Homo sapiens: one gene and its partner. The gene in region 2 interacts genetically with the main gene of each other region. Each region holds a gene or a part of one and is shown on either strand. Other genes may lie near its edges. The genes, in order: TCOF1 and POLR2B.

Region 1 (3,813 bases), on a different chromosome or scaffold from region 2:
TCCGATTCCTCGCTGCTGCTCTGCGAGTCCTCCTCCCGCTTCCCCGCCTGGGCCTTGGCAACTGCAGGCCCTGTCTTCCCAGGGGGCGCTGGGGCAGCTCCTTTCCTGGGGGACTCCTTGGCAGGGGCTGAGGCAGCTCCGACCTGAGAGGTTTTTCCTGAGGCCTTCGCCTGGAGAAACAAGACAAGGGGAGACAGCCCAGAGGATGGACGTGTGAGGAGACACAGGACACCACGTACAGAAGACCAGATAGGGCAAATGATGCCACACAGTGAGAGGGGAGTAAGGGGCTGGGGTCTGAGGCACGCCCGGGGCTCTGGCCCAGAGTGGGAGAACAAGTCCTGAGAAGGCCTTCTGGGGACGGGCCTGGCTGCATGGAGTCTCCCTCCTCAGGCCTCACCTGAAGCAGGGCCTTGGCAGCTGGCGTCTCCTCCTCACTGTCAGATGACTCCTCGCTGCTGCTCTCTGAGTCCTCCTCTGGCTTCCCTGCCTTGGTCTGGGAGGCTACAGCCCCTGCCTTCCCAGGGGGTGCTGGGGTAGCCCCTTTCCCAGGGGTCCCCTTGGCAGGGGCTGAGGCAGCTCTGACCTGGAGAATTTTTTCAGAGGCCTTTACCTGGTGAAAAAGAAAGGGCAGCTTGCTCTCCTGCTTGTGAAAACTCTCTGGTGATGCCTTTAGGATAAAGTCCAGAGGCCTTAATGAGGCTCCTAAGACCTCCCCTGCTTCCCTCCCCACTCCCCACCTTGACTGATACTTTGGCCACACTGGCCTCCTGGTTTCTCAAAAATCGATCAGCTTCACACACTCTCACTCCTGGAGCCTCCATGCCCCCTGTTCCATTTCACTTAGCCACTGCCTCCTCTGTCTCTGGCTCCCTAAGAGACACCACTTCCTTAACATGGTTCCCCCTGGTGCCCCAGCACACTGGGTAGTTAGAGCCTGTCCTCTGCTGGGCTCCCACTGGCCAGAGAGCTCTGGAGGCACAGGCACTGGCTTATCGGGAGCATCATCAGACTGGGCTGTGGGGAGGGGGTGTGCAAAGGCCCAGGGAAGGGAAGGAATGAAGAGGCAGTCTGAAAGTGGGGAAGGGACTGAGGGAGGCCCTCACTGGACTTTCTGCACATGGACAGCAGCAGGACCCCTGGAAGCCCACCCTCAGCCTCATGGGGCAAGGTTTGCACACCTGGCCCCCTCTTCACTAACTCCTCGGTGGGGCTCTGCACTGTCTTGGGGCTTTGGCAGGGTGGCTGCAGGCCCTGTCTTCCCTGGAAGGCCCTGGGTGTTCAGCCCTGGGCCAACAACCCTAGAAAACAGCAGCTCTGATCTTCTAAGAAGCTTCTCATGCAGAAAGTGCAGGCTGCTCCACACAGGTCTTGCTTGGCTAGCTCCTTTTTAAATTTTTGAGCCAACATGGAGAAAGCAGATTTTACATAAAAGTTCACATTTATGGCCAGGTGCGGTGGCTCATATCTGTAATCACGGCACTTTGGGAGGCCAAGGTGGGAGGACTGCTTGAGTCCACAGCTTGTGAAACACAGTGAAACCCTGTCTATACACACACACACACACACACACAAGCTGGGTGTGGTGGTGTGTGCCTGTATTCCTAGCTACTCAGGAGTGAGGCTGCAGTGAGCTATGATTGCCGCTACTGCACTCCAGCTTGGGCAACAGAGCAAGACTCTGTCTCAAAAAAAAAATTCACATTTGTGTTCCTTCTCAAAGTGGATGCCCATCCAACACTGTGTAGCCCCCAGACACTGCAAAATAGACAGCCGAGGCGTAGAAGTTCCCTGTAGATGGGGTGGGAACAACAATTTGTCACAATTCGTAGTCCTACTTCTACCTCAGGGCCTTGACACTTGCTGAGCCCCTGCCTGGAATGACCTTCCTAAGAGTGCTTCCTCCTTCTGGTCTTTACTGAGACGCCTTCTCCCAAGGCCAGCCCAGAGCACTCTGCTTCAAGTTGCCATTCCTATGTCCCCCACTTCCTCTTTACCATTTACCAGCAGCTAACGCAGGGGATCTGCTTATCTACTGCATGCCCCCGCCTTGTCCTGCCCCAGGCCTGGGGCTGGGTGGGTGACCCTCACTCTTCCTCCTTCCTGCTCTGACTTCCATTGCTTTCCAGCCCCCCTGTCTTGCCCTTGGGATACACCCAGGGCCTTGGGGCTGCAGCCCTGCCCACTCCCAGCAGATGGGGAAGGGAACTGGATTCCCTTTAGCTAACGTAGTGTTTGCCTGCTCAGGGTCTGGTTTGTCCTGAGAAGTCAGAGGATTAGGCAATCAAAACTTCTCAAGTCCCTCACAGCAGGACTGGCTGGGACGAGGACAGCGGCCCATTTACTAGGCAGAGAAACTGAGGTAAAGTTGGTCACAGACAAAGTGGAGTGCAAGACTCCCCTGTGGGAAGCAGGCTGTTCTTGCTCTTCAACTTCACACCATAGTCCTCCCTCTCCCCAACTCCAGTGGCAGAGGTGCTCATGGCAGAGTGCTCAGGCTGCTGGGGGACCCGCAGGTCCTCCAAGGGGCAGCCCTCCTCCAGGCCTCACCTGGCTTCGTGTCCCTGCAGGGGCCTCCTCCTCACTTTCAGATCCCTCCTCACTACTCTCTGACTCCTCTTCTGGCTTCTTGGCCCTCTTGGCTGGGGGCAGGGCCCCTCCTTTGACCTGGGGTGTCACATCCCCCACCTTCCCAGGGGCTGGGGCCGCCTTTCTTGCTGGAGACTCCTTAGTAGAAACTGATGAGGCTTTGACCTGGGCTGGTTTTACTGAGGGTTTCCCCTGGAACAAGAGGATGGAATTAGAAAATGAATAATAATTACTGTTTCCCCCTAAGGTTCTGTATTAGGGGCTTCAGCAGTTGATAAAGCTCTTTCCTAATGTCACTGGATTTTTAAGCAACTCCCTGAGACGGCTATTAGCTTTAGATCCATTTTCCAGAAAAGTACACAAGGCTTAAAGAGGTAAAATCACTCATGATCAATATGAAGGGACAGAGCCCCACTGGAACCCTGGACTGTCTGACTTTGGAACAGATCTCAAAACCATTACGTTCATCTCCCACCTGGCACACACCGGGCTTGGCCTGAGAGAAGGGCTTGCATCTCAATCAGGAGAGCGCATCCTGTCTGCCCCTTAAACTCAAGTATCTGATCACAGCAGCCCTCCTGAGGGCCAGGAGTTCAGGATGTGAACACCACCTCTGCCACTGGCTTGCCACACCTTGGGCAAATTCCTTCCCTCTGTGAGCTCTTTCCTACACTTCCACAATTCAGACATTTCCCAGGCAGTCAGTGCCCTACTTCTACCTCTGAGATCCATCAGACCCCTTGCGGCCCTGGGTTTCTGGGGCGTCTGCTACTGGAGCTCTGCACAGCCTCAGCCCATTGAGGTTGTGTGTTTATGGAGGGCTGGGAGTGGTCTTCTTCCCTTTGGCAAGGCCTGGGGTGACAGAAGCCAGGGATGTCCTTACAGCTGGTGGTATCTAGGGCGCAAGGGTGAGGACGGAAGGTGGAGGGCAGCCCTTGGTAAGGCCTGGGGTAGATGGGGGTGAGCTTTCAACCTTCACAGGGTTACTGGGCCAGGCAGCACAGTAAAGTGAGAAGTTCCCTGGGCACCAGATCAGTTCATCCCTGACTTGTGCTGGTTTTCCCTTGAAAACATCTTTCCAACTGTGGACACCTTGGTCTCCCAGCCCCCAGCCTCTTATGCCAGTATCAGTATTACTCCAATAGTCTCCTACATGGTCTTACTGCTTTTATTCTGCACTGCCCTCCAACCCAGGCTGCAGCCAGCAATCTTATTAAATGCAAA
Region 2 (3,813 bases):
TCACAGGTGAAAGGCATATCCTACAAAGAAAAATTTTAAAAGGGACTCAAAGATACATATACTAAACTAGAACTGACATTTCAGTTCTCCCAACTGAATTACTGTATGTCCCAAATTCTGTTTAAACATGGTATGTTCATATACTTATTCAACAATAAAATCAAAAAGTTCAACCTGTATCATCTTTGAGCTCTTAAGTTAAAGCAAATTTTGATTAAAAAAAAAATATTTAACAAAACTGGTTTGGGCATGAGGGAGATCAAAGATACCTACCTCTTGTCTATACTGAATACCACAAGTACCCTTTTGACCATGTCGACTAGCAAATTTGTCTCCAATCTGTGGAATCCTAACAGAGCGTACCTAAATTCATATAAAAATAAGTTAGTTAAGTGGATTTGGTTTACTTTCTAAAACTAGCTACATGAACAAAGTTGTACTCACCCTTATTTTACAAAATTTATATCCTTCCTGATTGAGAGTTACCATAACCTGATCCACAATGCCCGTCTCGCTAGTTCTGAGAAAAGTGCTACAGTCTCTCTTGGTATAGCGTCTATTGGTGCTCTCCAATTCATCTTCATTTTCAGGCAAGGTGACTGTTTTGCCTATAATAACATCATCTCCTGATACACGAACCCCTGGAGCTATCAAACCATCATCATCCAGCTTGTCGTAAATGGCATGCCTCATGCCTGTGAGGAAATAGACACGGAATGTCACATAATCCCCAACAAAGATTAAAAACCACATACATGAATCAGTTCCAAGTCAGAGAGAAGGCCACAGGAGTCTCTATACCATGAATCACACCCTTATTCCAAATATTACAAACTATTCTGAACTCTAATACTACAGCCCACACAGAAAACAAAAAAAAAAGTCTATGAAGGAAAAGAACATTGGAATCAGCACTGGGAAAGCAGATTCTTCCATGACAGACATTTATCGAGTGACTTTGGATATGTTTTTTGTCATCTTCTGATTTCTATATTACAAGAGAAAGAATATCTCTGCCATCAGTGGGTACAGGAGAAAAATTTTTTTAAATTAAAAAGAGAGTATCTATGGATGCCCTCTGTACACATCCTCCCACAGAAATTGTGGATTTCATCTTAACTCAATCTTAACTCCACTGGACATCAATTCACTACTACACAGAGCCACCCAATGGAAGGGGAGTAACAGGAAGATGGCAAAGGAAACAAAATACATTTTACTTCATGCAATGCTATTCAGAGTCAACACTGTAGCAGAGATATTGCATTTCCCTGGAACATCCCATCCATCCCACTGCATAAGCAGGTTTTAAGTGTCTGTCAAAATAAATAACTAGAAAGTAAGTTTGAGTTTTCTAGAAGAAACAACAAATGCTAGGTATCCTCTTCTCACTGGTTATTTTTTAAATGTTTACAAACAATGTGGCTGAACAAATATTATGATCACACCATAATTTAGAAAGGAAGGGGGACAGGTGTGAAGTGTGTCCCCAGAAATTGCATGACCTCTCTGATTTCCTAAACTCCCTCCTCAATGCAGGACCTACCAGGAAGGAAGGTCTATAGCAAGCTCACTCCTAGGTGCAAAGACTTTTATCAAATACACATGTTTTCTTAGATGTGAACTCTAAGAATAACATGAAAACACACTTTCATTGCACAAAAAAAGGGAGAGGAGGACAGGGGCAGGCACAGGGTGACACAACCCATCAAAATCACTTAGGAAAACCACAGTAAGTTAACTTTGGATTCCATCATTTAAATGTTAGTGTCACTTACCCTGGCATGTTTCACGTGTAGGCTTCTCAAAAACTTCTTCTTGATCAAATCCTTTTTTAGACTCCTGTTCTTTGTATGAGCGATAGAAAACAGACCTAAAAACACATGGTTCTAAAGGTAAAGTCTATTTTCTTTTAACAAAAGGGCTGAGACTATACCAACAATTTCTCATTTACTTGAAATTTGGGAGACAATTTAAACTACGAATCTGGGACAAGAGTAACTGCATTAAGGATCTGAGTTAAACTCTAAATGTTATCACATGAGTTATACATATGTAGCATCTGACCCATAACCTTAACCACCTAGTATTATATGTCAAAATGGAAGAGACCCAGGGGTCAATGAATCCAACCTCCGACACATTTAAGAATCCATTACATAATAACCCTGAAAGATGGTCACCTAGGTTCTACTCAAACACTTCCAGTGAGAAGTTTTAACATTGGCTGAGCATGGTGGCTCACGCCTGTAATCCTAGCACTTTGGGAAGCCGAGATGGGTGGATCAGCTGAAGTCAGGAGTTTGAGACAGCCTGGCCAACATGGTGAAACCCCGTCTCTACTAAAAATACCAAACAACAACAAAAAAAAACTCTGGCATGGTGGTGCGTGCCTGTAATCCCAGGTACTTGGGAAGCTGAGGTAGGAGAATCTCTTGAAACCTGGGAGGCAGAGATTGCAAGTGAGCCAAGATTGCACCACTGCATTCCAGTCTTGGCAACAGAAAGACTCTGTCTCAAAAAAAAAAAAAAAAAAAAAGTTTTTACATTAAGCCATAGTATCTGTCCTCTGAGTTCTAGTGCTACCCTTTGAAACTACACAGACAAAGGAAAATCCATCCCCTCTACTAAATTCCCAGTTTTTAAAACAATCTTTATATGCCTTGAATTTGAGGTCTGTTTGTCGACAATCAAACTGAAACATAATGGAAAAAAAGAGCGAAAAGAAAACACACTATAATTTTAACAATAGTTATCTATGGATTCTAAGTTATTTTTATTTCTTCTTTGGACATTTCTATATTATCTAAATGCAACTGTATATTTCCTTACCAAAAGAAAGGCTCAAAATACTAGCATTTGAAAATCCTGAGAGATACAAGTAGTATCTTCAGCTGTTTGTGACCATCAACCAGTCCTTCCACTTTCTGGAGTGCGGCGTAGTTAAACTGTATTTTAAGAACTTTTTTTGCATAAAAAATTAGTGTTTCCACTGTATCTGTGTTTTGACAAATTTACAAAATACTAACCTGAAGAAGCCGCGGTCTACAGCTGAACGATTCATGATAACAGAGTCTTCCTGATTATATCCAGTGTATGATGCAATGGCCACAATTGAGTTGATGCCTGCAGTGAATTTAAGAGCATACATTAAAACATCACCTGGAAAACAGAAAAACTGCCCTTTCTTTAAATCAACTTTAATTACATCATATTTGCCATAAATGCTTGGGTGTTTGTTATCATGGTAACTGCCAAAGTCTATTCCTCCTGGAATAGCAATCTGTGAGGCAACTACTCTGATGGCTAAATATCTCCCACAAGCAAATCCTAGGACTAGTCACTCCCAATGTATCCATTCTTATAGTAAGTGATTACACATGAGTCACCTCCTACTTAGGAAGTGCCTCCCCAAACCAAGTTTCCTGATCCTCACAGCAACTCTGTGCCATAAACAAGATAAGCATTATTATTCTCATGAATCAGAGGAGTGAATTAATAATCTACCCATGATCCCAAAATTAATAAGCAATAGACTCAAGCCCCAGCTTTTAGGTTTGAAACTGATACTACCCCATTCCCCTCTCCTTCTGCCACCAAGAAAATATCATATCTTTCCCACCACAATGAAATTCTTAGTTGCTGCTGCCAAAACACTTTGTTTGATGAGCCCATAAAATAACTTGATATTTAGGTCGGGCATGGTGGCTCACGCCTGTAATCCCAGCACTTTGGGAGGCCGAGGCAGGTGGATCACAAGGTCAAGCGATTGAGACCATCCTGGCCAACATGGTGAAACCCCACCTCTAATAA

The links.
Region 1: changes in POLR2B (region 2) and TCOF1 together harm fitness more than expected from each alone (negative genetic interaction), as found in Homo sapiens cells (one large-scale study listed by BioGRID).

The regions. Positions count from the first base shown.
Region 1 is NC_000005.10:150,370,974-150,374,786, reverse strand, and holds part of TCOF1 (treacle protein), read right to left. Parts: intron 2,782-3,813; coding exon 2,551-2,781; intron 614-2,550; coding exon 401-613; intron 171-400; coding exon 1-170.
Region 2 is NC_000004.12:57,020,212-57,024,024, reverse strand, and holds part of POLR2B (DNA-directed RNA polymerase II subunit RPB2), read right to left. Parts: intron 3,127-3,813; coding exon 3,030-3,126; intron 1,874-3,029; coding exon 1,779-1,873; intron 696-1,778; coding exon 445-695; intron 364-444; coding exon 274-363; intron 21-273; coding exon 1-20. UniProt on the Homo sapiens protein: Catalytic core component of RNA polymerase II (Pol II), a DNA-dependent RNA polymerase which synthesizes mRNA precursors and many functional non-coding RNAs using the four ribonucleoside triphosphates as substrates.